7 separate regions of the Homo sapiens genome follow, and all the other regions are reported to be linked to region 2. Evidence: microRNA targets listed by miRTarBase, many of them from high-throughput screens and not tested one by one. Region 2 holds a microRNA gene; each other region holds the end of a gene's coding sequence. Distances are between the middles of the regions.
Evidence for each region. Region 2 holds the annotated microRNA hsa-miR-513c-3p (UAAAUUUCACCUUUCUGAGAAGA, at 1,063-1,085, shown strand). A microRNA usually pairs through its seed, bases 2 to 8, with sites in the 3' UTR of a target mRNA and lowers its output. Matches are read on the target gene's strand: a 7mer-m8 pairs with bases 2 to 8, a 7mer-A1 pairs with bases 2 to 7 and ends in A, and an 8mer does both.

Region 1 (4,068 bases), not on the chromosome of region 2:
AGCGAGACTCCGTGGGCGTAGGTCCCTCCAAGCCAGGTGCAGGATATAATCTCCTGGTGCGCCGTTTTTTAAGCCCGTGGGAAAAGCGCAGTATTCGGGTGGGAGTGACCTGATTTTCCAGGTGCCGTCTGTCACCCCTTTCTTTGACTAGGAAAGGGAACTCCCTGACCCCTTGCGCTTCCTGAGTGAGGCAATGCCTTGCCCTGCTTCGGCTCGCACACGGTGCGTGCACCCACTGACCTGCGCCCACTGTCTGGCACTCCCTAGTGAGATGAACCTGGTACCTCAGATGGAAATGCAGAAATCACCCGTCTTCTGTGTCCCTCACGCTGGGAGCTGTAGACCGTACCTGTTCCTATTCGGCCATCTTGGCTTCTCCTCTTATCCCAGAAATTTCTTAAGTATTTTGTTGACCTGCATACTTCCTTGAATCAAAATGTTGAGGTTAATAGCTAACCTACTGCTTGCTGCTTCTTCTAGCACTATTATATTTTAGGAACCTAATGGCATCTAAGGATTTCACCGTGTAATAACAGTGGGAATTTATTTTTCTTGGTGTTTGGAAACTCTCAGGAATTTTTTTTTCCTTTTTCTTATTTTTCTCTCCCTCTCAATTATAGGTTGAAGCTCCATTCATACCAAAGTTTAGAGGCTCTGGAGATACCAGCAACTTTGATGACTATGAAGAAGAAGATATCCGTGTCTCTATAACAGAAAAATGTGCAAAAGAATTTGGTGAATTTTAAAGAGGAACAAGATGACATCTGAGCTCACACTCAGTGTTTGCACTCTGTTGAGAGATAAGGTAGAGCTGAGACCGTCCTTGTTGAAGCAGTTACCTAGTTCCTTCATTCCAACGACTGAGTGAGGTCTTTATTGCCATCATCCCGTGTGCGCACTCTGCATCCACCTATGTAACAAGGCACCGCTAAGCAAGCATTGTCTGTGCCATAACACAGTACTAGACCACTTTCTTACTTCTCTTTGGGTTGTCTTTCTCCTCTCCTATATCCATTTCTTCCTTTTCCAATTTCATTGGTTTTCTCTAAACAGTGCTCCATTTTATTTTGTTGGTGTTTCAGATGGGCAGTGTTATGGCTACGTGATATTTGAAGGGAAGGATAAGTGTTGCTTTCAGTAGTTATTGCCAATATTGTTGTTGGTCAATGGCTTGAAGATAAACTTTCTAATAATTATTATTTCTTTGAGTAGCTCAGACTTGGTTTTGCCAAAACTCTTGGTAATTTTTGAAGATAGACTGTCTTATCACCAAGGAAATTTATACAAATTAAGACTAACTTTCTTGGAATTCACTATTCTGGCAATAAATTTTGGTAGACTAATACAGTACAGCTAGACCCAGAAATTTGGAAGGCTGTAGATCAGAGGTTCTAGTTCCCTTTCCCTCCTTTTATATCCTCCTCTCCTTGAGTAATGAAGTGACCAGCCTGTGTAGTGTGACAAACGTGTCTCATTCAGCAGGAAAAACTAATGATATGGATCATCACCCAGATTCTCTCACTTGGTACCAGCATTTCTGTAGGTATTAGAGAAGAGTTCTAAGTTTTCTAAACCTTAACTGTTCCTTAAGGATTTTAGCCAGTATTTTAATAGAACATGATTAATGAAAGTGACAAATTTTAAATTTTCTCTAATAGTCCTCATCATAAACTTTTTAAAGGAAAATAAGCAAACTAAAAAGAACATTGGTTTAGATAAATACTTATACTTTGCAAAGTCAAAAATGGCTTGATTTTTGGAAACAATATAGAGGTATTCATATTTAAATGAGGGTTTACATTTGTTTTGTTTTGTAACCGTTAAAAAGAAGTTGTTTCCAGCTAATTATTGTGGTGTACTATATTTGTGAGCCTAGGGTAGGGGCACTGCTGCAACTTCTGCTTTCATCCCATGCCTCATCAATGAGGAAAGGGAACAAAGTGTATAAAACTGCCACAATTGTATTTTAATTTTGAGGTATGATATTTTCAGATATTTCATAATTTCTAACCTCTGTTCTCTCAGTAAACAGAATGTCTGATCGATCATGCAGATACAATGTTGGTATTTGAGAGGTTAGTTTTTTTCCTACACTTTTTTTTGCCAACTGACTTAACAACATTGCTGTCAGGTGGAAATTTCAAGCACTTTTGCACATTTAGTTCAGTGTTTGTTGAGAATCCATGGCTTAACCCACTTGTTTTGCTATTTTTTTCTTTGCTTTTAATTTTCCCCATCTGATTTTATCTCTGCGTTTCAGTGACCTACCTTAAAACAACACACGAGAAGAGTTAAACTGGGTTCATTTTAATGATCAATTTACCTGCATATAAAATTTATTTTTAATCAAGCTGATCTTAATGTATATAATCATTCTATTTGCTTTATTATCGGTGCAGGTAGGTCATTAACACCACTTCTTTTCATCTGTACCACACCCTGGTGAAACCTTTGAAGACATAAAAAAAACCTGTCTGAGATGTTCTTTCTACCAATCTATATGTCTTTCGGTTATCAAGTGTTTCTGCATGGTAATGTCATGTAAATGCTGATATTGATTTCACTGGTCCATCTATATTTAAAACGTGCAAGAAAAAAATAAAATACTCTGCTCTAGCAAGTTTTGTGTAACAAAGGCATATCGTCATGTTAATAAATTTAAAACATCATTCGTATAAAATATTTTAATTTTCTTGTATTTCATTTAGACCCAAGAACATGCTGACCAATGTGTTCTATATGTAAACTACAAATTCTATGGTAGCTTTGTTGTATATTATTGTAAAATTATTTTAATAAGTCATGGGGATGACAATTTGATTATTACAATTTAGTTTTCAGTAATCAAAAAGATTTCTATGAATTCTAAAAAATATTTTTTTCTATGAAATTACTAGTGCCCAGCTGTAGAATCTACCTTAGGTAGATGATCCCTAGACATACGTTGGTTTTGAGGGCTATTCAGCCATTCCATTTTACTCTCTATTTAAAGGCCGTGAGCAAGCTTGTCATGAGCAAATATGTCAAGGGAGTCAATTTCTGACCAATCAAGTACACTAAATTAGAATATTTTTAAAGTATGTAACATTCCCAGTTTCAGCCACAATTTAGCCAAGAATAAGATAAAAACTTGAATAAGAAGTAAGTAGCATAAATCAGTATTTAACCTAAAATTACATATTTGAAACAGAAGATATTATGTTATGCTCAGTAAATAATTAAGAGATGGCATTGTGTAAGAAGGAGCCCTAGACTGAAAGTCAAGACATCTGAATTTCAGGCTGGAAAACTATCAGTATGATCTCAGCCTCAGTTCTCTTGTCTGTAAAATGGAAGAACTGGATTAGGCAGTTTGTAAGATTCCTCCTAACTTTCACAGTCGATGACAAGATTGTCTTTTTATCTGATATTTTGAAGGGTATATTGCTTTGAAGTAAGTCTCAATAAGGCAATATATTTTAGGGCATCTTTCTTCTTATCTCTGACAGTGTTCTTAAAATTATTTGAATATCATAAGAGCCTTGGTGTCTGTCCTAATTCCTTTCTCACTCACCGATGCTGAATACCCAGTTGAATCAAACTGTCAACCTACCAAAAACGATATTGTGGCTTATGGGTATTGCTGTCTCATTCTTGGTATATTCTTGTGTTAACTGCCCATTGGCCTGAAAATACTCATTGTAAGCCTGAAAAAAAAAATCTTTCCCACTGTTTTTTCTGCTTGTTGTAAGAATCAAATGAAATAATGTATGTGAAAGCACCTTGTAAACTGTAACCTATCAATGTAAAATGTTAAGGTGTGTTGTTATTTCATTAATTACTTCTTTGTTTAGAATGGAATTTCCTATGCACTACTGTAGCTAGGAAATGCTGAAAACAACTGTGTTTTTTAATTAATCAATAACTGCAAAATTAAAGTACCTTCAATGGATAAGACAATTGATTGAGTCGTGAATTCTACTTGGTGCCCTCATCTCCTGATTTATTTTCCGCTGATACAAGAGATGCTTATAGATTCCTAGTTTTTATGTGTTTGGGTTGATTTCTGGGTGGTGGGAGCAGAGCACA
Region 2 (4,068 bases):
CACATTGTGCAGGTTAGTTACATATGTATACATGTGCCATGCTGGTGCGCTGCACCCACTAACTCGTCATCTAGCATTAGGTATATCTCCCAATGCTATCCCTCCCCCCTCCCCCCACCCCACCACGGTCCCCAGAGTGTGATATTCCCCTTCCTGTGTCCATGTGATCTCATTGTTCAATTCCCACCTATGAGTGAGAATATGCAGTGTTTGGTTTTTTGTTCTTGCGATAGTTTACTGAGAATGATTTCCAATTTCATCCATGTCCCTACAAAGGACATGAACTCATCATTTTTTATGGCTGCATAGTATTCCATGGTGTATATGTGCCACATTTTCTTAATCCAGTCTATCATTGTTGGACATTTGGGTTGGTTTCAACCATTGTGGAAGTCAGTGTGGCGATTCCTCAGGGATCTAGAACTAGAAATACCATTTGACCCAGCCATCCCATTACTGGGTATATAACCCAAATGACTATAAATCATGCTGCTATAAAGACACATGCACACGTATGTTTATTGCGGCATTATTCACAATAGCAAAGACTTTGAGGATTTTTAATGAGACAAGCAAAATTACAGGAAAACCAATGGGATAATTCAGACAAGGATAACTCACCTCTGAAAAAGAGGAGAAGTGAAAAGCTCTATCATTGCTCAGCCTAAAAATCGGCGTGTTAATTAGCTGTTCATGGTGGTGCACAGCTTTAATCCCAGCTACTCAGGAGGCTGAGGCAGAATCACCTGAACCCGGGAGGCGGAGGTTGCAGTGAGCCAAGATCACGCCAATGCATGCCAGTCTGGGCCAGATTCCGTCTCAAAACAAAACAAAAATCTGCATGTTAATATCTCACTCAGGGCAGGGTGAAAAGGGGAGTGCTAGGGGCTAGAAGTTGCATTGTTACTTGGCATAAATCTTGGTGGCCATGCGAAGGCATACACCTATAGGGACTTGAATAAAAACGGCATGAATAGGGAACATTTGGTCTGGGATGCCACATTCAGCCATTCAGCGTACAGTGCCTTTCTCAAGGAGGTGTCGTTTATGTGAACTAAAATATAAATTTCACCTTTCTGAGAAGAGTAATGTACAGCATGCACTGCATATGTGGTGTCCCTAGGGATGGGGCTGTAGCTGCGAGCATGGTGATGCCTGTTTTGCATCCTGTGCACCCACTCCTCAGTGCTGGGCTACTTCAAGGAACTTTTTGTGCCTTCTAGACGACTACACATAAGAACTGTGGACTCCTGAGAAAACGCATGCACTTTGGTTCCTTAAGAATTTATCTACTTTTGCCAAATGAGGCTTGGCTCAAATAAGAAATACGTTGTATAGAGGCCACAGCCATTCTTCGTCAGCTGAGACATTTTACTCCAGATTCCTCAATTCTCTAAACTCTTTTCACTGATCAACTAGTCATCATTTGCAAGGATTGTCCTTTAGTGCTCCCAAAAGGCTCTCCTGCCTCTCAGGTCCCTTCATTGCTGATCCACAGTGTCCATTTTCTGTCAAAGACTAAAACATTTTCTCATTGACTGTTAAAATACCTTTCAAAGCCTTCAGTCACCAATTTATGAAGGGTTAAGCATAGTCCACCCAAGAATATTTCACCCTTTTTAATTATCTTTTTTCCCCATTTTTTAAGAGTATATTTGAAGAATGGAAGGGTATGACAGAATTGATACTCAAGAGATATCTCCTAGGCTTCTCTCCCCATTTTCTTTTGGTGACGCTTAACTCTTAACCTAATGGAGAGAAATAGAGGGAAATAAACACACACACACACACACACACACACACACACACACACACACAGAGAGAGAGAGAGAGAGAGAGAGAGGAGAGAGAGAGAGAGAGAACATGCAAGAGAAAGACAAGCACCAGACTATGTAAGGCCATCTGCAGCATTAATCTAGTATACATGTTTGGGAAGTAGGTTATAAATAAGCTATTTATATTGTGGAAATGTGTAAAAAATGTTATAAATAGTAAGTGATTAATACAATTTTGATTCCAACTGAAACAGAGGCTACAGCATAAACACCGAAAGGGAAAAACTATAAAAAACAATTACTATATGGTTACAGGCAGGATTTTGGTTTATGTTTTTTTAGATTCAGAATGTATGAATATGTATAAGACCATTAATGTCTGAAAGTAAAAAAAACAGTTGAAGTATCTTTTCCATAATGAAAAACATTGTAATAATAGAATACATACAATCTTTTTGGGGTGGGGGCAACATTCTGAACAGTAAAAAAATTTTGTCACTTTGCAATACTGTATGTACATAGAATTTTCCAAAGTGATAACTGTTTTTAGTATATAATTTCTAAAACTGTATTATAGTGATGCATGTTTACTTATATAACTTTAAGTGATATCTTAAAATGAAATAAAAGAGAATTTAGTTGTTATCATACCTCTGTTATGATTTCTCAAAAGAATAGTATATTTACTGGTATTTGTGTTTTTTTTCAGTGAAATACTGTTTTGTATTACTCAGCCTTTTTTCTTCCAATTTATTAAGGTTTAACTGACATAAAAATCATATTTAAGGTGTACAACATGACGTTTTGATATATGTGTACATTATGCAATGATTAAATCAAGCTAATTGAAAAATAAAATATGAACATAAAATATTTATTTGAAACTCTAAGAAAAAATTACAAGATCTCTGTGGTAGGCAGAGTAACAGCCCCCGCCCAAACAATGTTCACAATGTAACCCCTGAACTCGTAAGCATCATATTTTATTGTAGAAGAAAATTTGTAGATGTTATTAAATATTTTGAGATTGGGATTATCCTAGATTATCTAGGTGAGCCCAACATTATCACAAGGGCCCTTATACGTTGGAGAAAGGTGGTTAGAATGAGAAACATTGCAAAATACTATAGTATTGACTAGAGGTAGAGGTAAAGGCCATGAGCCAAAGAATGGAGAAAGTAACTAGAATCTTCTAAAGACAATCAAGTAGATTCTCCTCTAGAGCCAACAGAAGGAACAAAGCCCTGCCAATGCCTTCATTTTAGCCAAGAGAAACCTAATTTAGATTTTTGACCTTTAGACTCTAATATAATAAATTTGTGTTGTTGTAAACAACTAAATCTGTGGCAATTTATTACAGTATCAATAGAAACCCCAAAACATCTGTATGCTAAAACTGTAAATATACTAAAAAAAAATACTAATTAAGTGGCGAGGACTATCATATTTATGGATTGAAGGATTCAAATCTATAGACTTTTAGACTTCCATTAATCTCTAGAAGTAATACAATTCCAACCAATGTCCCAGAAAAATATTTGTAGACATTAGCAAGATGATTCTAAAACTGATATAAAAGGCGAATAAACTAGAATATCCAAAACAATCTGAAAGAGAATCACAAAGCTGGAAAATTTACACTTGTAATTTCCAGATTTACTGTCTAATTAGATTACCCAATGTACTGTGGTACTGAAGAAAGGATGGACAAATAGAAGGACCAGAAATATCCATATATGTCACCAATTCATTTTGACTAAGCTGTAAAGTCAATCTAATGAAGAAATGATAGTATTTAAACAGTAAGATGCTGGGAAATGTGAGATATATAAAAAATATGAACCTTGATCGTATTTCAAACCACATACAGAAATTAACACAATCTTAAGCCAAAACGTCAAACTATCAAATTGCATGAAAAAAATGAGAGAAAATATTTTTGACCATTAAATTATTACATATGATATCAAAATATAAAAATAAAATTTATTAAAAATAAATTGATAAAATAGACTTTGAAAAAATTAAGACGTCTTCAAATAAGACCACTGAGATAATAAAAAGGCAAATTACAGAATAAAAATATTTATCACATTATTGAATTACATATAACATATATCCAGCATAAATAACTACATATAATTTAGCACTCCTGTGTATACTAAGTATTTTACTAGTTACTTTGTAAAAATTATCTGTGTTTTAAAATGTCAGTTCTGTTAGCATGTGTTGAAGCTGTTTTGATCTGTGTTGTAGTCCTAGCACATGAAAAACCCTGGTTTAATGTTTACGT
Region 3 (4,068 bases), not on the chromosome of region 2:
CAGAAGGAGAGCCTACTCTTACCTCTCATCTGAAGGATCCAGGCTGGCCCACAGATAAGGGGTAGGGTAGCCTGAGGTCCGATCTGTGCAGTCACTTCTGGTCTCTCCTCACATGACTGTCCTAAAATTCAGAAGTCAGAGCTGCTGACTCTAGCCCTTGAAACATGGTGAGGGAGCAAGGGATGAACCTGAATGCAGATGCCAGCCCCACCACTGGCCTTTTCTGACCCATCACTGTCTGTCGATCCAAAGACTTTCCTTAATCTCGTGCCTTCCCAAGCCATTGGGGCTCACTGTAGTGCATCCGTGGCCCTGTCCTTCTTCATATTCGAGCGTTGGGAGTGCACTACGTATTGGTACATTTTTGTCTTCTGCAGGTGTGGTAGCATCCAATATTTGGGGATGAGGGAGGAAGGTTGGCCCTAAACCTGAAGGTTTTTCCCCTACCCAGCCCTTTCCTCCATGTGTGAGATACCAGATCCACTCAACATCCTGTAGGCTTTTAAAGTTTCATCCCCTACCCCCCATGCCACCTGCCCTACACTTTCAGAGGTGGGGTCTCTGGTTTGGAGATTTGGGTATTTATACTGAAAGGGTTTCTGAATCTACCACTTGCCTTGGTAGTGCCCTTCCAGCTGTCACTGAAATGGCTTTATTCGTCACCGTCTTTGGGCTGAAAAAGAAACCCTTCTGATTACCTTCATGACGGGAACCTAAGGACGAAGCCTACAGGGGCAAGGGCCGCTTCGTATTCCTGGAAGAAGGAAGGCATAGGCTTCGGTTTTCCCCTCGGAAACTGCTTCTGCTGGAGGATATGTGTTGGAATAATTACGTCTTGAGTCTGGGATTATCCGCATTGTATTTAGTGCTTTGTAATAAAATATGTTTTGTAGTAACATTAAGACTTATATACAGTTTTAGGGGACAATTGAGATGGCTGAACTACTGAATAAAAAAAAAACAACGCTGTTTTCTAGTCCTGCAGACCGTAAGATACTTGGTATCGCTTCTATTTTGGTTACTACGGTAGGTGCCTGGCGGAAGGGAGTGGGCGGAGATATGTAAATAGAAAGTGCGTACAGTTAGAACGTCCGGCACGTAACTGATCGGAGCATTCTGGGAAGAAGTAATTTATTCCTTTTCGGCAGCCGAATGAAAAAAAAATTTAAAAAAATGTGCGAGCTAATATGGCAAAACAACTGGAAGGACGCTAAATAATAGGATTGCTCATACCAGCGCGTTATGAACTCACCCTAGCTTGTAACGGAATCTTTTTCACTGAGTGCAGAATGTCGGCTGTTTGTCTGTATCGTCAGGTGGGATAATCCTTACCTGTTCCTCCTCCGGAGGGCAGATTAGAACATGATGATTGGAGATGCATGAAACGTGATTAACGTCTCTGCGTAATCAGGACTTGCAACACCCTGATTGCTCCTGTCTGATTCTTTCTGACGATCACTTACATTTGTGTTATGCTGATTAGCAGATATCCACAAACATAGCTATGAAGTTCTGACTGGGATAACCTTGCTGTTTGTCTATTTTGCAGTCTTGCTATTGCTGTTTGTCTATTTTGCAGTCTTGCTAAATTTGTTTGTTCTTGAAAATTGTGATTTGGTTTTTGTTGCTTTCTGGAATTTAGGCAGTGAAATAATACAAATGGGCTCTTTGTTTTTTGTCGTTTGATAACTTTAATCCTCACTTCTCAGGAAACATTGCACATCAGTAAATATCTGCAGTCTTGTGCACATGGTGGTTGCCCTCAGGATGGTATTCAATAGGAACTGTATTTCTTTTTCCTTGAGGTAGGGTCTTGGTCTGTCGCCAAGGCAGGAGTGCACGGCGCAGATGTATATACATGGATACATTTGTTTTTGGAGAGTTGGTTGTTAAAAATCTACCAGTACACCCCCAAGAAACTCATCATCACCAATGACTTCTTCCCAAATCCAGAGTCACTTTTCAGACTTGAGATTGACCTCTCTTCAGCATATGGTATGTTGACCACCCCCCTCTTTTGGTTTTTTTTTTTTTTTTTTTTGAGACAGTCTCACTCTGTTGCCCAGGCTAGAGTGCAGTGTGCAGTGGTGGGATCATGGCTCACTGCAGCCTCAAACTCCCAGGCTCAGATGATCCTCCTGCATCAGCCTCCCAAGTAGCTGGGACTACAGGTGAGCACCACCACACCTGGTTGTTTTAAAATTTTTCTATAGAGACAGGGTCTCACTGTGTTGCCCAAGCTGGTCCCAAACTCCTGGGCTCAAGCCGTCCTCCCCACTAGGCCTCTAGGCCTCCTAAAGTGCTAGGATACAGGCATGAGCCACCGCGTTTCTCCCACTCCCCTCTTTTGCACTTTTTTCTCCCTTAGTTTTGAAACAGTGGTTCACCTGGTTTGCCTACTATTATACTGTTCTGGTTGTTCCTTCTTACATTAATTCAATAAATACTTATTGAGTACCTGCAGTGTGTCAGTTACTGGGGACATAATACTGGGTTGTCTCTTCTGCTTGCCCCGTAAGTGCTGGTGATCACTGCTCTTCGGGTGACTTCATCCATCTCTTGTTTTCTTTTCTTTTCTTTTTTTTTTTTTTTTTTGAGACGGAGTCTCGCTCTGTTGCCCAGGCTGGAGTGCAGTGGCGCGATCTCGGCTCACTGCAAGCTCCGCCTCCCGGGTTCACGGCATTCTCCTGCCTCAGCCTCCCGAGTAGCTGGGACTACAGGCGCCTGCTACCACGCCCGGCTAATTTTTTGTATTTTTAGTAGAGACGGGGTTTCACCGTGTTAGCCAGGATGGTCTCGATCTCCTGACCTCGTGATCCACCCGCCTCGGCCTCCCAAAGTGCTGGGATTACAGGCGTGAGCCACCGCGCCCGGCCCATCTCTTGTTTTCAAACATCAACTAGATGCTGCTGGTTTCCAGATCTCAGCTCACGTATGTGAGCCCTAGCCCAGGGCCAGGACTACAGGAACAAGCTCTGTAGCCAGACTGCCTGCCGGGGTCCCAGTGTGGTTTTTTCTCTTTTTGGCCGTGTGATGGGCAGGAGGTCACTTTCCCTCTTTCTGCCTCAGTTCCCTCATCCACACTCACACTTTTTTTTTTTTTTTTTGAGATGGAGTCTTGCTCTGTCGCCCAGGCTAGGGTGCAGTGGCGCGATCTGCAACCTCCGCCTCCCTGGTTCAAGCGATTCTCCTGCCTCAGCCTCCCGAGTAGCTGGGATTACAGGCGCCGGCCACTGCTGTCTGTCAGGGGAGAAGGGTAGCAGAGTGTCAGGCCTGTGGTAACTGCTCAGTGTCTTTTCCCTGAGTTGACTGGGTCTTGGGATTCTCCCATCATAGTAGACATCTGTTTTTGCCAGTTCAGTATCCATCCTTTCTTTCTGGTAATAGCACCACCATTTTCTCTTCTTTTTCTTTCTTTCTTTCTTTCTTTTTTTTTTTTTTTGAGAGGGAGTCTCGCTCTGTCGCCCAGGCTGGAGTGCGATGGCGCAATCTCGGCTCACTGCAACCTCGGCCTCTCGGGTTCAAGCGATTCTCCTGCCTCAGCCTCTTGAGTAGCTGGGATCACAGGCGCGCGCCACCACGCCCGGCTAATTTTTGTATTTTTAGTAGAGACGAGGTTTCACCATGTTGTTCAGGCTGGTCTCGATCTCCTGACCTCGTGATCTGCCAGCCTCGGCCTCCCAAAGTGCTGGGATTACAGGCGTGAGGCACTGCGCCCGGCAGCACCACCATTTTCTTTTGGGAGACCCTCCCTTATTCTTAGTCTGCGTGGTTAGGAAGAGGCTGACAGCCACTCCCTCCCTACCATTCCTCTCTAGGCTCATTCTGTTTTCCTGGGCGCGGTGATTGGTTCAAGCATAAACCTTGACAACAGGACTATTGCTGGAACTTTTGGGAAAAGAGAAGCCTGGACTCTTCCTGGAAATAAAAGCATGCTATAAAATAAAATAATTAGCCTGGGCGCGGTGGCTCACGCCTTTAATCTCAGCACTTTGGGAGGCCGAGGTGGGCAGATCACCTGAGGTCAGGAGTTCAAGAACAGCCTAGCCAGCATGGTGAAACCCCGTC
Region 4 (4,068 bases), not on the chromosome of region 2:
TTAAGGCAGCACAAAAGAATAATTTAAAAAAATAGTTCCCTAGAAAATAGATCCTGAGAATAAAAATATATAAACATATATACATGTACTTCCAAATGTAAAAATGAAGCTTGTCATGTAGTAAAAGAAAAAACCCAGCTGCACAGAAAAAACTTTAATTAACTTAAATAAGAGATTTGTTAACAACAATATGCCTTAAAGGCTAGAAAGACAGAAAATACTAGGGAAAAAATGCTTTTAACTAGCAAGAATATAAGGCATCAAACCAAACTAGAAGGTAAAGTGGAAATAATTAAGAATGAGTTTCAAAGAATGACGGACAAAATGTTTTAGAGAAGAACACAATTTGGCAGAATGACTACCTGTATCTAGAGCATATTTTGAAAGTGGAATCAAACAAATTCAATACTTTTTTCACACAGGGTGTTTCTTGCTCTGCCTCCCAGGCTGGAGTGCAGTGGCAAGATCATCACTCACTGCAGCCTCGAACTCCTGGGCTCAAGTGATCCTTTAGCCTCAGCTGCCTAGTAGCTGGAAGCACCACACCCAGCTAATTTTACTTTTTGTAGAGACGCGGTCTCATCATGTTGCCCAGGCTGGTCTCAAACTCCTGGCTTCAAACAACTCTCCTGCCTTGGCCTCCCAAAGTGTTGGGATTACAGGTGTAAGCCACCATGCCTGGCCAATTAATACTTTATATAAAAGTAAGTAAAGAGCTTAATTTTTCTAAATTTAAGACAAACATGCAGATTGAAAGGCAAGCCAAAATTAAATATTGCCAAGTCATTTTAATGATCAGAATTAGAGAATCAAGTGCAATTACTAGAGTTAAAGAAGTCAAATACTTTTCAATTTGAAATCTTATCTGAGGGAGAACACTATCTGATTACTTTTAGGAAGCAACTCAGAGGTCATACTGACCTTTTTTTTTTTTTTCTTAAGTATTTCTGAAATTTAAAGAAATAAGAATAGACTGGCTAAATTTTCAGGTCATTTGCAATTTTAAATTTTCTCATCATAAACTGCTTCAAGCTGTTTGATCACTTCCACTGATTACTACACAAGAAATAATTTGCACAATTTCCCTTACTTTTATATCATTTACATTTAAATACAGCCAAAAAATACCCATGAAAATCTAAGAAATGTTCATTTCTAAAACTAACAAACAAAATCAAACTACAAGTATTAAAGTGCCCACAAAAACATTTTGGAATACCATGGAGTTGAGGCAGGGAGTAACAACTCTCAAACTACTTTTATTTAATCTTACTCATATTTAAGAATAAGTTATCTTCAACAGACCTAATCTAATTGTGGAATCATTTCAAGGTATTTTGAATAATCATATCATTTATAGATATCAGAGCAGAACAAATTTTGGATTAAGTAAAGAACTATAATTATACTCTTAGGACATCTGCTGATGACAGAGGTTTCTCTGACACCAGTGACAAAGTAATATTTTCTGGGACCATTACAACATGCCTAGACAAATTAAATTTTTTAGCTTTATAACAAGAAAGCTCATAGAGTACAATTTTTTGAAAAATTGGTTAAATAGGTTATGTCACAGAGGAAACCTAATTTGCCTCTCTGCCACGGAAATTTTTAAATAAGCCAATAATTTAACATTATGAGATCTGAAGTAATTACTTTTCTATACGGCAAGCTCCAGCCCAGCCACCAGTACCTCCTTTACCATATCCAATGAATATTTTAACATGACTTTCCTGTAATGGTCTTCAGCTTTAAATGGATAGACTCTGACATCGATAATTCCTTAAAGACGTGCTTATTCCACAAGCTGTTCTTGCTTTTTCTGAGGACATATATATGTATACAAGCATTTTTAGATATTAATCATTTTTAAGCTTTTTTACTTAAAATCAAAAGTTTCCTTACAGTATGTTTCAAAGATAAAATCACATTACATTATTGGGGAAACTACTAGTTAAGACTCTAAAACGCACACAAGGCTGAGTGCAGTGGCTCATGCCTGTAATCCCAGCACTTTGGGAGGCCAAGGCGGGCAGATCACCTAAGGCCAGGAATTTGAGACCAGCCTGGCCAACATGCTGAGACCCCATCTGTACTAAAAAATACAAAAAAAAAAACAGCCAGGCGTGGTGGCGCACGCCTCTAGTCACAGCTACTCAGGAGGCTGAGGCATAAGAATCACTTGAACCCAGGAGGCAGAGGTTGCAGTGAGCTGAGACAGTGCCACTGCACTCCAGCCTGGGCGACCGAGCAAGACTCTGTCTCCTAAATAAATAAATAAAATGCATACAAAATAGTTGCAGTAGTACCTGCAGATAGATACAGGGATTAAAGGAAAAGGAATCCTTAGGAAAATTCTTTATCCTATCTAGAGTACCTCTTAAGCTCCCTCTGCTGGTTACCATTTAAATAAAGTAGGAAAAAATGTTGACCTTTTTTCTTTGAGGAGGTGATGGGAGATGCAGGATGAAGTCTGAAATTGATAATGTTACGGCTAAAATTGAAAGGGAGATTCTCTTAAAAGGGGGCTAAATCTAACTGATGACTATCTTCTGTAAGAAGGCTTTAAAAGGATTTCTAAACAGATTGGGGGAAGAGCGACTGAAAATAAGGGGAGTGATTACCAAGTTTGAATATGTTAATCATTAAATTGATATGCCAAAATGCAAAAGCATTTAATATAAATCAACTATAAACGATTATGACTTAACACTAGAAAAATTAAGAATTTAAATATATTTCACAAACTTCACCAGAACAAAAAACTTTTATCACACTATTTAATCTACTTAGTTTCAATATTAAGGTTTATTTTTTCTTCCAGATTGAAAGTAACAATTTAAATAATTATCAGGATATAGAAACAAATATCCATTCAGATAAAACATTACTGCTTAAAAGTGGCTAAGAAATATTTTGCATGTAATAAATATATTTCATGTTTAGGTTAACAGGCACCATCTTGAGAGCAGTTTGTTTTTTTTTTTTAGCTAATAAATAAATTACATTCAAGAAAACAAGGTGTTTATATCTGAGTATATCATTAAATGTTTTTCTTCATATAGCACCCAAACTTCAAACTGTCTAGAAAGTATCTCCTAAAATATAACTCATACCTTAAGTAATAAAAATAAAGGCCAAGAAAAAAAATCAATTTAAGACAAAATTTACAGTTTATATTCTTAATTCCCCATTCAATAAAATATCGATTGCCAATTTAATAAAAGTAAATGAACTGTATATATGCAATCTGTTAGCACTGAAAATCTGAAATATATATTTTTAAAAATCACTCTTTCTGACAGTATTTAAAATATTGCATCTCTGGTGGCAAACCTGAAAACAATCAAGCATCTTATTACCCTAGTTTTCATACCTACCCCATACCCCATCACTTTTTATCCTTTAACATCCATCCAGCATTTTTGTTGGTTTTTTTTTGTTGTTGGCAAATACACTTACTTATATCCCAAACACAAAACACTGACAATACTCCTTGGTAAACAAGGAAATCCCAGAACAGTCCAAGCCTACACAGCTTTGCTCCCGAAGTGTGGCACAGGCTAAACGACAGGCGAGAAAGAAACAATCGATGGCCCTTATTGATGCAGTCAGAATGCTCCTGAGAGTCCATAACTGTTTGAGAATTTGCTGATGTTATCCTGACAGAAGTTTCAGCAGATTTTGCAAACAAGTATCAGAGAATAAGTCTTTGATTGATAATTTTTCTATTTATTTCTGCCAAGGCGACTGAAAACACGAAAGCCTTTTCATCAGACAGGTTAGCATAGATGTCAATTTCCTTTTCCTGTTTCTCTGTTAAAAGAAAAAGGGAAAGTTTAATATAAAGGCAGTAGATGCAGTAAATTTAAATTTTTTAAAGCTTTCAAGTATTTCTTTAAATGACAGTATTATATATAATACTACAATATACATTAAATGTTACTATGCTACTGAACTAAAAAGTTTTTTAAATTATACAAAGGAGTTACTGAAATGAAGATTAAATGAAGACAATATTTATTTCTATACACAGGCACTCTAACAGCTACATAATTTTTCTAAGAA
Region 5 (4,068 bases), 74 Mb from region 2:
ATAGTAAAATCTGTTAGCTACAATAAGTAGTTTTGTTTGCCAGCTTAATTTTTAAATTGCCAATCTAATAACAACTTGTGGTTTAAGTTCTTTACATATTTTTTTCATGTATTTCACTTACTTTATATGGTTCAGGATTGAAATATTGTCCTATGAAAAATGATTATAGACTTTCTGGGTTATTTATAAGTTATATTAAATGAAAAATATTTTGTAAATATATTCTTGTTTTTATTTTGCAGGTAATACTAATAGAATTCTTACCAAAATATCCCATATTCCGACCTGACTGAGGAGTTTTATCCAGTCACTTCTGTGTTACCTGTCATTTCCTACCCTTAGTGCCTTGTAGATTTGGAATGAAGATGGTCTCCTTTGCTGTGTTCAACTTATTCTTTATAATGGTAGAATATTCTTCTCGCTCTTTTGTGTTGGTTTATGAAGAAAATTTGCACATCTTTTTTGTCTTTCAATGAGGCTTGTGTTTTGCACTCTCAATTTTAAATACACACACATGCGTGTGTGCATATACATATATAGATAGTTGCCATTAAAGATAAATCATCAGTGTTGGTGTTTAAAAAACAAAAACTTGTTCTGAGCATGCTGCCTTATAATTTTCATACTCATTGTTTCTAAACTCGCATCATTTTTCTAGGCTACTTGATGCTCTGTAATCCCTTACTGGACAAACTTAAATAAGCTTTTGGTAGCTTTTAGAAATGGTTTTACTCTGCTTTTAAAGGACATGCTTTTAAAGGACATGCAATTAATGGCACTGGTTTTGTCCTGCACTTTGCTTTATCACTTATGTTAGTGGATAAAATATTTAAACTCCTAAAGACTTGTAAATATTGCCTCTTTGCATAATGTAAAATGTGGTATGCCATGGTTTACATAATGTAACATTACTCTTATTGTATTGCCAACAATTTTACATAGATTTTAATATGAATGAAGTTTGCAAGCATCCCTTTGAATGTAGAAACTGCTAACATGCTGTTTTATGGCAAGGCCATAATGAGTATGTTAAGAATTTCAGGTGTAGGGCAAGGTTGCCCTTTGTAACAAGTGGACTAAAATTGAAATTATTATCTCAGATATTCTGTATTGCACCTGAAACCATGACCTTTATTTTTCCATTTCGTTTAATAATTTCCATTTTGTTGTCTACTCCTTCCCACAAAAAAACTATTTGACATCTGACACATTTCACAGTCTCACTATCCTGCATTTATTAGCCTTTTCTTCCTTTGAAAATACACACAATTATGACTTTTAAGGAGTATTTTGAGATTTCAGACATCTTCAGAAGGTATCTAGACCCTCTTGAAAGCCACTAACACCTTTCTGCAGTTCTGATATTCTAGTTTGAGAAAGAGAGAGAACTATTTGAGAAGCTGTAGCTAAAGAGTATATAGCAGCTGATTCATAATTGAAAAAAAATTCTCAATTCTGTTTTTGATGATCCTTTATAAAACATTAATGAGGAAAGACAAGTGTTTAGACAAAAGTATTTTAGTTTATAAATTCAGCACATATGTAACATTTATTTGGTCCATATTTCTCTATTTTTCTTCACAATTAAAATGATTGCTAGCACCACACAACTAGAATTTGAAAATTCAGTATAATGAAAGCTTTATATCACATTAATTCAACTGCAAATGTATGCCTGTTTGTAGGCATTATTTGTAATTCATAGTGCTAAAAATAAAAGTGTCTAGGGCTCAGTAATATTTTGTCATCTTACTCTTACTGCTTTTAGTAAACCTTTTAGGCAAGATTCATCTCAGTGAAGTGAACAATCATTTCTTCATAGAAGGTCAAGCCTTTTTAAGCCACTCTTAAAATTTATGCCTAATTTGAAATCCACAGTCCTTGACCAGTTTAAAAAAGAGAGGAAAAAGAAGACACTATTTTATATGTGATTATAATTGTTTGCACAAACACTTTTCCACCTTCCTCTGTGCCCCATTACCTCTGTGCCACTCAGTCACCCCAAATCTCTAACCTTTAGTAATGTGTATGCCTGCAAATATTATGTGTTTGCCTGCTGCAAAATTGAAGGTGTATTTTTATAGACAAGGTAGAAGCCTCTGAAAATGTATACCAAATGTCTTGTTTTGTAGCTAAGGTCGGGAAAAATTGTATCTGAGGTTTATGTTCCAGCTAATGTTATCAAATTTATGCTTCAAACTGTGATATTTTAATACCAAAATCGATTTTCAGCATAATACAAAATATCTCATTTTCACTGATAGAAAATTGCTTTTAAGTGTTGATCCTTAGAAATCTTATTTTTTTCTATAACCTTAGAATTTGATCATATGATGGTCATAGGAACTTTTTCTGCCATGTATAAATCACACTTGGTTTTGCTCAAAGAACAGCATGAAGTGGTGAATTGTTTCCATGAAACAATTATTGAGAATGGGAATACAGTATATCTGGAAATGACACAGTATAATACAAGTTACAGTAGCATTTGTCACAAAAACCACTTGTCAGCATGTGTAAACTTAATTTTAAAGCCTATTCTAATCACTCGAGTTTATTATTTTATTGTTCGCTATGCTGGTTGACTCATCTTAGTTTCTTCAACTACCCAAAAAAATACCAATTTTTTTCCTCTCTTGTATGACTACTTTTTCAAACTGTTTTCCTTTGCAGGGGGCTGATTAGCAATTGAGTATTTTGTAATGTTTGGGCGGGGTTGCTTTGTTTTCAGTGAAATTGGTTGCAGTGAATGCTAAAATGACACAGCACACTGGTGATTAATTCCTCCCCCATGGAGCCTTTTTTCTGTTATGCTTAGGATAGAACATACTTGTAATTTTCCATTAGGTTAGTAACATACTTTTGTGAAAGTTGTTTTTAGACTGAAGAAAGTAATTTTGAATTTCTTTGTTACATAATATTCCTTTATGAAACTTGTGATAGTTTCCAGAGCAAAACATGTATTTGCCAAAGTATATAAATCTCACAAGGCTTTAAGATTACAAGCTAAAATTGTTTTTTAAAATTAATGTTCCAATGTTTCTCATTTGGCCCAAGATTCTGGCTTCATAAATTTGTCCAACTGGCTATTTTTAAGCTTGTCCTAAAAGCCAATAACATGTTTATTCCTAATAACTAATATGGGCAAGTGTTATTTACAGATTTATTAACTCCATCCCAGATATGTCTCCACTCTTTGTTCCCTCCTAATGCTAATTTAGGAAAGAGACCACTGTAGTAAAACTTTAGAAGAAGATGGAGAAGTGCCTTGTCTTTTTAGAACAAAGATAACACATTACGTGTAAGGAAGCATAATAAATGAATTGGTAGATGATTAGATTAGAAATCATCCTTTTCAACTAGGTCTAAGAATACTTTACTAGTGTATTATCTTTTATTTATTATGTAAAGCTTCTTTCCTTCCTTTTCCCCAATCATGATATATTAGTGACAAAATATTACAGAACCGGACTATCAGTCACTTAAAAAAACAGTATAATTCTAATGCTAGTAAACATGTAATTTAATTTAGTTCTGGAAGGACAGTTGTCTTTGATTAAAGCCCCACCAAAACCCATTTAAGTATTTAATGTACATACTATTCATATTATTATGGCCTGTAAACACTAATATCTGAGCAATCAAACTGTTTTATCTACCATTTTTGATGAAATTTGAATAAAGTTTAAAAACGTGTAAGCCTTTGAACAAATGTATGAAAGCTTTAAAAGATCATTAGCACTTTTATTTTGTTTACAAATAAGCTGCCATTTAAAAAAATAAAACCTCACTACTTGAACATAAAGCTCCCAAACAATATTGTATTAAAATGTACTATATTGACCTAGGAGGATATAGAAATTATATTCACCTGATTAACTGGAGCAGTTTCACATAGTAGAAATACTTTTTGCTAATTTGATTATAAGTGCTCAAATTTATTGAAATTAGATTCTCATGCCTATAAAAGTATACTTTAAAAATATTTTGCAACAACTGTCAAATTATTTGGGTTCCTTTAAATAGCAAACAATTGGGAAATTTTCCATAAAAATGAATAGGTTTTAT
Region 6 (4,068 bases), not on the chromosome of region 2:
TGTAGAGACATGTGGGGCTGCCTGAATAGCCTAAGGGGTGTCACGCCACAAGGCAATGAAATATGAAATTGTATTTTCTACCACCAAATAGTACCCATCCAAAGAGCACCCTGCCACCCACATTTACATTCCTGGGCAAAGGACACAGAGAGCTGGGAGGAAAGCAGGGGCCCCTCCAGCGGGGGCAGCCCTCCCTGTGCGCCGCTGCCAGGCTGTAGAAGCCCCGGCGTCCTGCTCCTGACACCCCTCCTACCCCTGGGCAGGTGTCCAGCGCAGCCCCGCAGAGCTCCAGGGTGGCCAAGTGGATCTCACCGGGGCCACCTGCCCCTACACCCTGTCCAACATGACCTACAAGGAGGAAGACTTCGAGCGCCTGCTGCGGCTCAGTGACTACAACGTGCAGACCAGCCAGGGTGCCATCCTGCAGGCCCTGAGGACCGCGCTGAAGCACCGGACTCTAGAGGCGAGGCCTCCAAGGGCACAGACCTGAGGTTGCTCAGAGGCTGCAGGACCCTCCAGGGCCTGCGGGCATAACCTGATCTGTAGCTGGGCTCAGCCACAGGCCTTCCTGGTTGGAGTTCTGGGCTCTCCCAGGCCTGGGTGGCCTCTGTAGCTGGTCTCACTGCCCAGAGGGAACTGCACACACAGACTTCTCTCTTACGTTCATGGCTGGCTTGAGATGAGTTGAAAATAACTTCGCCAGGCCAGTGTGTAGAACAGCTGGTCCAACCAGACAGACTTTCACACCACAATTACTTCCATGCCTGAGCAGGATAGATTTGAAGTGCAAGCCGGAGGCAGCAGATCAGGAGTAGGGACAGGAAGGACAGGGGATGCCTGACCTGACAGGTGGCTTCAGGCCTCGGGAATCACAAGACATCCTGAACACATTGCCTCCTCATCTTCTTCCTGCTCCTCCACCTCCTCCTCTCCTTGTCCTTCTCCTCTTTGTCCTCCTGCTTTCCGTATCCAAGTCTTGTACTTGTTTAAATTTATTCCTAAATATTTTATTCTTTTTGATAAGTGGAGTTACTTTCTTAATTTCATTTAGATTATTCATTGCTATTTTATAGAAATACAATGGATTTTTAAATGTTGATCTTGTATTCCGCAATCTTGCTGAAGTTGTTTACCGGCTCTAATACTTTTGCGGATTTCTTAGAATTTTCTGTAGACAGATCATGCCATCTCCAAATAGAGATGGTTTTACTTCTTCCTGTCTGATCTGAATGCCTTTTATTTATTTTTCCCAATTGCCCTGAGCAGTACAATGATGAACACACGTTTCAAGAGCAGACATCTTGTCTTGTTCCTGACTCTGACAAGAAAGCATAAGTCTCTCACCATTTAGTGTGATTTTAGCTGTGGGTTTTTCTTGGACATCCTTATCAGGTTGAGAAAGTTCTCTTTTATTTCTAGTTTATTGAGTGTTTTATGATGAAACGGTGTTAGGTTTTGTCAAGTGATTTTTCTGTGTCTATGGGCATGATCATGTGGTTTTGTCGTGTATTTTATTAATGTACTCTATTGCATTAATTGGTTTTTGGATATTAAACCAACTTTGCATTCCTGGGGCAGTTTCCATTTGATTATGGTATATAAACCTTTTTGTTTATTGCTGGCACATTTCTTTTTCTTTTTCTTTCTTTTTTTTTTTTTTTGAGACAGAATCTCATCACACTCTGTCACCCAGGCCAAGTTCAATGGTGCAATCTGGCTCACTGCATCCTCAACTTCCTGGGCTCAAGTGATCCTTCCACTTCAGCCTCCCAAGTAGCTGGGACTACAGGCATGTAACACCATACTTGGCTAAATTAAAAAAATGGTTTTTTGTAGAGATGAGGTCTCACCATGTTGCCCAGGCTGGTCTTGAACTCCTGAACTCAAGCAATCCTCCTGCCTCAGCCTCCCAAAGTGCTGGGATTACTGGTGTGAGCCACCACGGCCAGCTGCTAGCACATTTCTTACCTCCCTCATGCAAGGGTGCGTGTACACATACACACACACACACACCTGGCCCCAGGTGGGGGTTGTAGTGAGAGCTTCGGGACAGACCTTGGCTCAGGGACTGCCCTCATCTGATGTCCTCTCTCAGCTTCCTTCCCTGTGCCTCTTCTGCATTTGGCTTTATTTTGATTCTTCACTTTTTCCCTTTATCATGGACTCTTATTTTTTTAACAGTGATATGGGAATTGACTAGCTGTTGTGTTTTATTTTATGCTGGGCATTTTACATTATTCCCCTTAATTCTCACATTTGCCTAATGTGTTAGGTAGAATTACCGTCTCCTTGTTATCAGTGATGAAACTCAGGGTTGGGAAAGGAACAGAACAAAGCATCCTGTGACTCGTCTGCAGGTCCCTGGTGTCCGCCTGATGCACACAAACTTCACAGAGCACCTGTGTCAGGCAGGGTCACCGCGCCCCCGTGACGCAGCAGGACAGAATCAAGGCCACTCCATAAATATGCCTGAGCATGGACAAAAAATGAGGGCACTGTGAAACCATAAAAATGGCCAAACAGTGCCCTCTCCTGTTTCACGTGAGAGACTGCGGTTTCTCTACCAGGCTTTTCGTCCCTCCCGTTCTTCCACCTCCTGGATAAAAATTGTGAAGATCCTCAATTATAGACTCGCCCCACTCCCTGACAGCACCCAATCCACAGCAACACTTTGCTTCCTTGAACATTTCGTAATGTCACCCTACAAACGCCCAAATCCTTCAATAAGCACCCCCCCACCACACACACACACACACACACACACACACACACTTACTGAGACTGCACTGCCTCCTAGTATACAGTCTTCTTAGTGCAATGGGTACCAGTTAACTCAAATTTGTTTGGCTACTGGGCTGTTCCTGCTGGCCTCTGGCTGGTAGGCGTCCACAGGGATTAAGTAACTTGCTAACCTCAAAGGTGGCAAATCCAGGACTGGAGCTTCTGACAGCCACACCTCTCTGTGTCTTTGGGCACTGACTTTGTAACGTGCCCTATTCGTAGTTTAGAATTAACCTCACCAAAGAGAGGTCCAGTCTCTGCCCGTGGCTAGTGGGAGGTGACCTCTGGGTCCTGGAATGTCCTGTCTGACAGGAGTGTCTTTGTTTGCTGGGGGGCTTTGGAGACTAAAGGTCGGTCACACAGGCAGCATCTGATCAAGCCTCAGTAAAGTCTCTGGGCACCAAAGTCTCAGGTAGACTTTCCTGGTGGACAACACCCTGTGCGTATCCTCACACATTGCGGCCCAGAGGAGGCAATGCTGTCCAGAACCCCAAAGAGAGAGGACACCTCCCTGGAAGCTTGCAACTGGACCCCTCCCAGATTCTGCCCTAAGCCTCTCTTCCTTTGGCTGGTTTTAATTTGTATCTTTTCATGATCATAAAACTGTAATCATAAGGTTAGTGCTTTCCTGAGTTCTGTGAGTCACCCTAGAAAATTACTGAAGCTGAGGGTGGTTGTAAGCACCCCCAAATTTGCAGCCAGCTGGTCTGAAGTGAAGGTGGCCCTGGGGACTCTGAACTTGCGGCTGGTGGCTGAAGTTGGGGCAGTCTTGTGGGGACTGTTCCCTCGGACTGGACAGTTTGGTGACCTCTGCTGCAGAGGTCAGGCGTCCCAGAAGATGTGGTGGTCTGGAGGACTGTGCTCCCAACCTCAGGGTTTGGCCAACTGCCGGCACGGATGCTCTGGAGAGTGAGCCGGCATGGTAGAAAAAAAAAAAGACCCTTTCCATTTGGCGAACTTTCAATAAAGCCAGCCAGACAGCCAAGGAGAGTGGGCTGGGCTGAGGCTCAAAGCCACACCTGGCATGTGAGTGTGGATGTTTATCTGTCTCATATACCCGCCCCCCACTAGCTGCTGTCACCCCAGCCCCTGACTACCCAAACACCCGGAGGCCCTCTCAGCCCCACCCTGACCCGGGTGAGGACCGTGACTCCAGCAGCTGTCAGGCCCCCACACAAAGGCATCTATGTAAATCACACAGTGCTCTTCCTGCAGCCTGTGGGCCCTTCCTGGGGCCAGCTCAGAGACAGGAAGACAGCAGGCTGTCTGTCACCAGTCCCAGGACAA
Region 7 (4,068 bases), not on the chromosome of region 2:
CATGTGTTTACCCTCCTCATTACAATATAAGAGGATCTTCGAGAATAGAGGATGGCTTATAAAATTCTATATTATTTTTCGGGCCCAGAAAAGATCTCTATGAGCAGAGGTGACTCAAGAGATGCTTATAATACTAATTAAATAAATCATGATGAATGGCAAGGGATAGACAAAGAATTAAAATTAATGATGAGCTAGAAACAGACTCTACTGACCTTAAAATAAACTCTATGAAGTCCAACGCACAAGGAGATGAGGTTAAAGCATGCTAACTTGTAAACAGGTAGAAAAATGGATTCACAGATTTTCATGGCACAAGACTTTACTCATTTATTTAGCTGGATGCTTCCCTATCACTGGGCACTAAAGACTCTTGTGTCATAGTCTTTTTGCTACTATTAAGCCAGAAAACAGAGATAATGTGCCAGCCTACCTACACAAGACGAATCATATTTCTCTCCAAGAACCTCAACAAGGGCACCTAGTTAAAGGTGGTAACTGAATTTGGTTCCATCTACATAATGGCATAATCAAGACAGAGAAATGATAAAAATATTATGACAGCTGATGCATTCCCTAGAGACTGACAGAGTCCAGTAGCAAGGTCCAGATCCACACTGGAGTCTGTACTTGAACAAGATACAGATATCAGATTTAGTAACTAGAAATATTCCATCGACCCTCATCCCCACCCCACCCTTCCCCATAACAGACTCAATTATCAAGTGGCAAGAAAAATTCTCCATAGGGAAGCTTGGTGCCTTCCTTCAAGAACGTGCCTGCCATTCTACAAGAAGTAAAAATCATGGAAAATTAGTTTCCACGGGGAAGATCATCTGAGAAGGATGGGCAGTAACAACTTAGGGGGCAATGAAGTTAGAAGGTTGGCATAGCTCTTCAAGGAATGTCAAGACCATGGCCAGAAAATGCTCAACATTATAGTAAAAAGTTGAGGGAAATGTACCCAACAGAAAACTTTGATGCTCATTTTGAAGAAGGTAAAGCTGCCAGAAGACTGAGACACTGCTGAAAAAATGGGCACAAAAAGAATTACAGTGGTAGAGTTGGGATCTAAAAATGTACCATTTTTGCATATGAGAGTAGCCTTGTTCCACTTCATTACTTAATTTGAGTGAAGTGGAAAGAACATGGGCTTTGGAATCATGTAGACCATGAGTTCTCAGTCTAGCTCTTTTAATTGAGAGATCTATGATAATGAGTATCATCAACCTTTCTTAGCTTTGTGTTCTAAAATGAAAAGTAACACCTGCATATTAAGTGCTTAGCTTAGCATAATTTCTAGCACATTGTGGGGGATCTAAGTGAGATCTATTATTGCTGCTTTTAATAGATTTATTTCTGCAGTTCTGTTCTTGCCCACGATTTCCCTTGTGACCATTAATACATATTTCGAGGCTTCTGACAAGAGCGTGAAGGCACCATCTGTGCCATGAACCTTGGACTCACTCATTAACTTCAGTGAACAGAGCCAACCCAATCTCACAGTGGTGGGTACCCTGGAGAACTATCTTAGTTGGCAAAGGATTATCTACATTTCATAACATTTTGTTGGAGGTAGTTGAAGTAGGTGGGCTAAAGTAACTTTGTTTTGTGGTGACCTGTGGTCAAATTATGATGATCAATAATTTGCATATTGTTGTAAGTATTCACAACAATGAAGATGATAAGTAACAATTACTTCTAATTTATGGTCTCTACTATATTATGCTTTTGCTGAAGCTTGAAGAAAGCTCATATGTACATAGACGGTGTGTCTAAAAGAAACACGATTTTTAAAAAATGTCTGACTGTATACATCAAATGAGCAATACCTCCTACAAAGGAGCTCCCTTGGGAAGCTATACAAACATTGTTAACAATCCTGCATTAGATCAAAACACTTTTGGAACTTCTTTATTGGAATTGCCTTATGACCTAGTTTATGAGCCATATAGAAAACTCAGTCTCATTAATTTATAGTCACACATAATTAATTTTTCACCTCTGGTGGAGTTACCCAGCTTGATCACCCATTTTGGCTCTGAATGATTTTGCTGCTTCCAAAATAAAATCCAATCTCAAAGTGTGAGTATTTGCCACTATCTAGAGTGTTTAGGAGAACATATCACATGTTATGAAGGCAATTCCAAAAAGAACTCCAGAATTTCAGATTCTGGAATAACATATCTCATGGCAGTGAGTTTGCTGAGGGCAACTCTCCTCTGCACAGCAAGTTGTATTTAATAGTATATTTGATTTTAAAACTATTCATCCAACAAACAATTATTGAGGGCTAGCTATTGTCAATTTGTTCTTTCATTCATTTGCTTAACAATTATTTACTGAGTCCCTATTACTCTATAGGAACTGGGCTAGGAACCCAGCAGTGAATAGGAAAGACATGGCCACTATTCTTGCAGAGACTTCATCCAATTAAGAAGACAAATACTAAACAGCAAAGAGAGGCGTAATGAGAACATATTTCAGAGAGACCTAAGCTAGTCTAGGGATTAGGGTAAACTTTCCTGAGGAAATGATTTTGAAGCCGAGATTTGAAAGATGACTAGGAATGTTCCAGGTAGAGGGAACAGCATGTGTAAACGCTTGAGGGCAAGGGAGTGTGATGTTGCAGGAACTGAAAGACGTTCAGTATGACCAGAGCATTTAGGGGAATAGCAGAAAACTGTCAGAGGCCAGACCATACAAGGCCTAATAAGCCACATGAAGAGTTCAGACTATTTCAGTTGCTCATACACTAAAGAAGGGATATGCAACTCTGGTTGCAGAATGGATCGGACAGAAGAGAGACTGGAGGTAGAGAGACGGTTTAGTAGGTTATTAGGAAAATCTGGGAGAGGATGATGGCAGTAGAGACACAGAGAGGTGCATGAATCTGAGAAATGCTCAGGAGGCAGTAGCAATAGGACTTGAAGATTTACTGGGTGCCAGAGATTTTAAAGGATAGGGAAGAGCTAAGGATGAGTATCGAGTAGCTGGTTTGGGAATGAAGGGTATGATGGTGACTTTCACTGAGCTGGGGACACTGGAGAAGGAGCTCTAGTCATCCGGTAGAGGAGAGATGATGAGTATACTTCTGGCTATCCTGTGATTGAGGTGCCGGGAGAGTATCCAAGGAAAGACGGTAAGTAGGTGGCTGGATATCCAAATCTGTGTCTTAGGACAAAGATGGGACTGAAACTATTTGAGGATCATCAGCAAGAGAAATGAATCTGATCACCTATGTTGAGTGTGCAGAGTGAAAAGAACACAAGGCCTTGGAAAGACCCCTGAGATGCACTAATATTTAAGAACTGGGTAGAAGAAAAGATGACCACAAAGGAAACTGAAGAATAAGCCAGGGAAGAAGGTAGATCCGGAGAGTACGGCACTTGGAGACCAAAAAAAGAGAGCATTTCTTTTCTTTTCTTTTTCCAGCAAGAAGTCATAACTTTATTTATGATAGAAACAGTACAAATTTCAAACCAAGCTGCAGTTACTCCTTTGAGACACCAAAAAAAGTTGCTTTCAGATGGTTACACTGTTAATTCCATAATCGCATTTACAATATCATTACTGTTGTTCTTCAGAGCTCGGACTGCCTTTGCTCTCGACACATTTGCTTGTGACATGACCAATTTCACGTCTTTAACTTCTACACCTGTTTCATCGACCTCTTCCTCTTCACTCTCCTCTTGTACAGTTGGAGTCTGTGTGTTTTCTTGAATGTTTCCGACAGCTTCACCTTGAACTCTGAATTTCTCCGCAGCTGCTAGTTGTGCTTGCTGAGATAAATCTTGGATCTTGGCTTCCCCAAAAACTATGTAGGCATCCGAAGCAGGGCTCTTGTAGACGTCCAGTTTTGTGATGACAAAGAGGATATTCTTAGATTTCCAGATAGTGACTCTAGTAACTCCTGTAACCTGTAGAAGACCCAGTTTGGACATAGCCTTCCGTGCCCTCTTTTCACTCCGACTCTGTTTTGCTTTACCGACTGGTTCTTCATCAATTTCAGCTGCTGCCACCAGCCAGGCTTTTTGTGTGGTGGTCTGGGTGGAATCCTGTTCTTCA

Region 1: miRTarBase lists PRKACB as a target of hsa-miR-513c-3p. Seed matches in the 3' UTR shown: 8mer at 1,275-1,282, 7mer-m8 at 1,363-1,369, 7mer-m8 at 2,135-2,141, 7mer-A1 at 2,333-2,339 and 7mer-A1 at 2,655-2,661.
Region 3: miRTarBase lists TMEM107 as a target of hsa-miR-513c-3p. Seed matches in the 3' UTR shown: 7mer-A1 at 1,162-1,168.
Region 4: miRTarBase lists C16orf87 as a target of hsa-miR-513c-3p. Seed matches in the 3' UTR shown: 7mer-A1 at 1,499-1,505, 7mer-A1 at 1,004-1,010, 7mer-A1 at 979-985 and 7mer-A1 at 728-734.
Region 5: miRTarBase lists CHIC1 as a target of hsa-miR-513c-3p. Seed matches in the 3' UTR shown: 7mer-A1 at 1,851-1,857, 7mer-A1 at 2,184-2,190, 7mer-m8 at 3,670-3,676, 7mer-A1 at 3,935-3,941 and 7mer-m8 at 4,038-4,044.
Region 6: miRTarBase lists PLA2G4D as a target of hsa-miR-513c-3p. Seed matches in the 3' UTR shown: 7mer-A1 at 989-995.
Region 7: the mRNA of NACA2 is a reported target of hsa-miR-513c-3p. Seed matches in the 3' UTR shown: 7mer-m8 at 3,473-3,479.

Annotation. Positions count from the first base shown.
Region 1 is chr1:84,234,560-84,238,627 of GRCh38, forward strand. PRKACB (protein kinase cAMP-activated catalytic subunit beta) reads left to right here. Exons shown (of 10, transcript NM_182948.4): 10 at 621-3,939. The coding sequence ends at 746. Among named protein-coding and RNA genes, the nearest start is that of SAMD13, 65 kb to the right of the region's middle.
Region 2 is chrX:147,186,734-147,190,801 of GRCh38, reverse strand. It overlaps MIR513C (microRNA 513c), which reads left to right and starts at 1,015; the gene lies at 1,015-1,098. The region is part of intron 1 of LOC105373347 (periphilin-1); the gene reads right to left.
Region 3 is chr17:8,170,829-8,174,896 of GRCh38, reverse strand. It overlaps TMEM107 (transmembrane protein 107), which reads left to right. Exons shown (of 5, transcript NM_183065.4): 4 at 281-377; 5 at 625-2,440. The coding sequence ends at 694. SNORD118 (small nucleolar RNA, C/D box 118) reads left to right here and starts at 1,309; the gene lies at 1,309-1,445. LOC105371520 (a long non-coding RNA gene) reads right to left here and starts at 787. Exons shown (of 4, transcript NR_188261.1): 1 at 699-787; 2 at 23-121. RefSeq lists enhancers at 1,113-1,292, 1,773-1,862.
Region 4 is chr16:46,799,255-46,803,322 of GRCh38, forward strand. It overlaps C16orf87 (chromosome 16 open reading frame 87), which reads right to left. Exons shown (of 4, transcript NM_001001436.4): 4 at 1-3,816. The coding sequence ends at 3,698. Among named protein-coding and RNA genes, the nearest start is that of C16orf87, 30 kb to the right of the region's middle.
Region 5 is chrX:73,680,713-73,684,780 of GRCh38, forward strand. CHIC1 (cysteine rich hydrophobic domain 1) reads left to right here. Exons shown (of 6, transcript NM_001039840.4): 6 at 243-4,068. The coding sequence ends at 293. Among named protein-coding and RNA genes, the nearest start is that of CHIC1, 120 kb to the left of the region's middle.
Region 6 is chr15:42,065,137-42,069,204 of GRCh38, reverse strand. It overlaps PLA2G4D (phospholipase A2 group IVD), which reads left to right. Exons shown (of 20, transcript NM_178034.4): 20 at 264-2,196. The coding sequence ends at 490. Among named protein-coding and RNA genes, the nearest start is that of PLA2G4D, 27 kb to the left of the region's middle.
Region 7 is chr17:61,587,000-61,591,067 of GRCh38, forward strand. NACA2 (nascent polypeptide associated complex subunit alpha 2) reads right to left here. Exons shown (of 1, transcript NM_199290.4): 1 at 3,422-4,068. The coding sequence ends at 3,534. Among named protein-coding and RNA genes, the nearest start is that of NACA2, 2.2 kb to the right of the region's middle.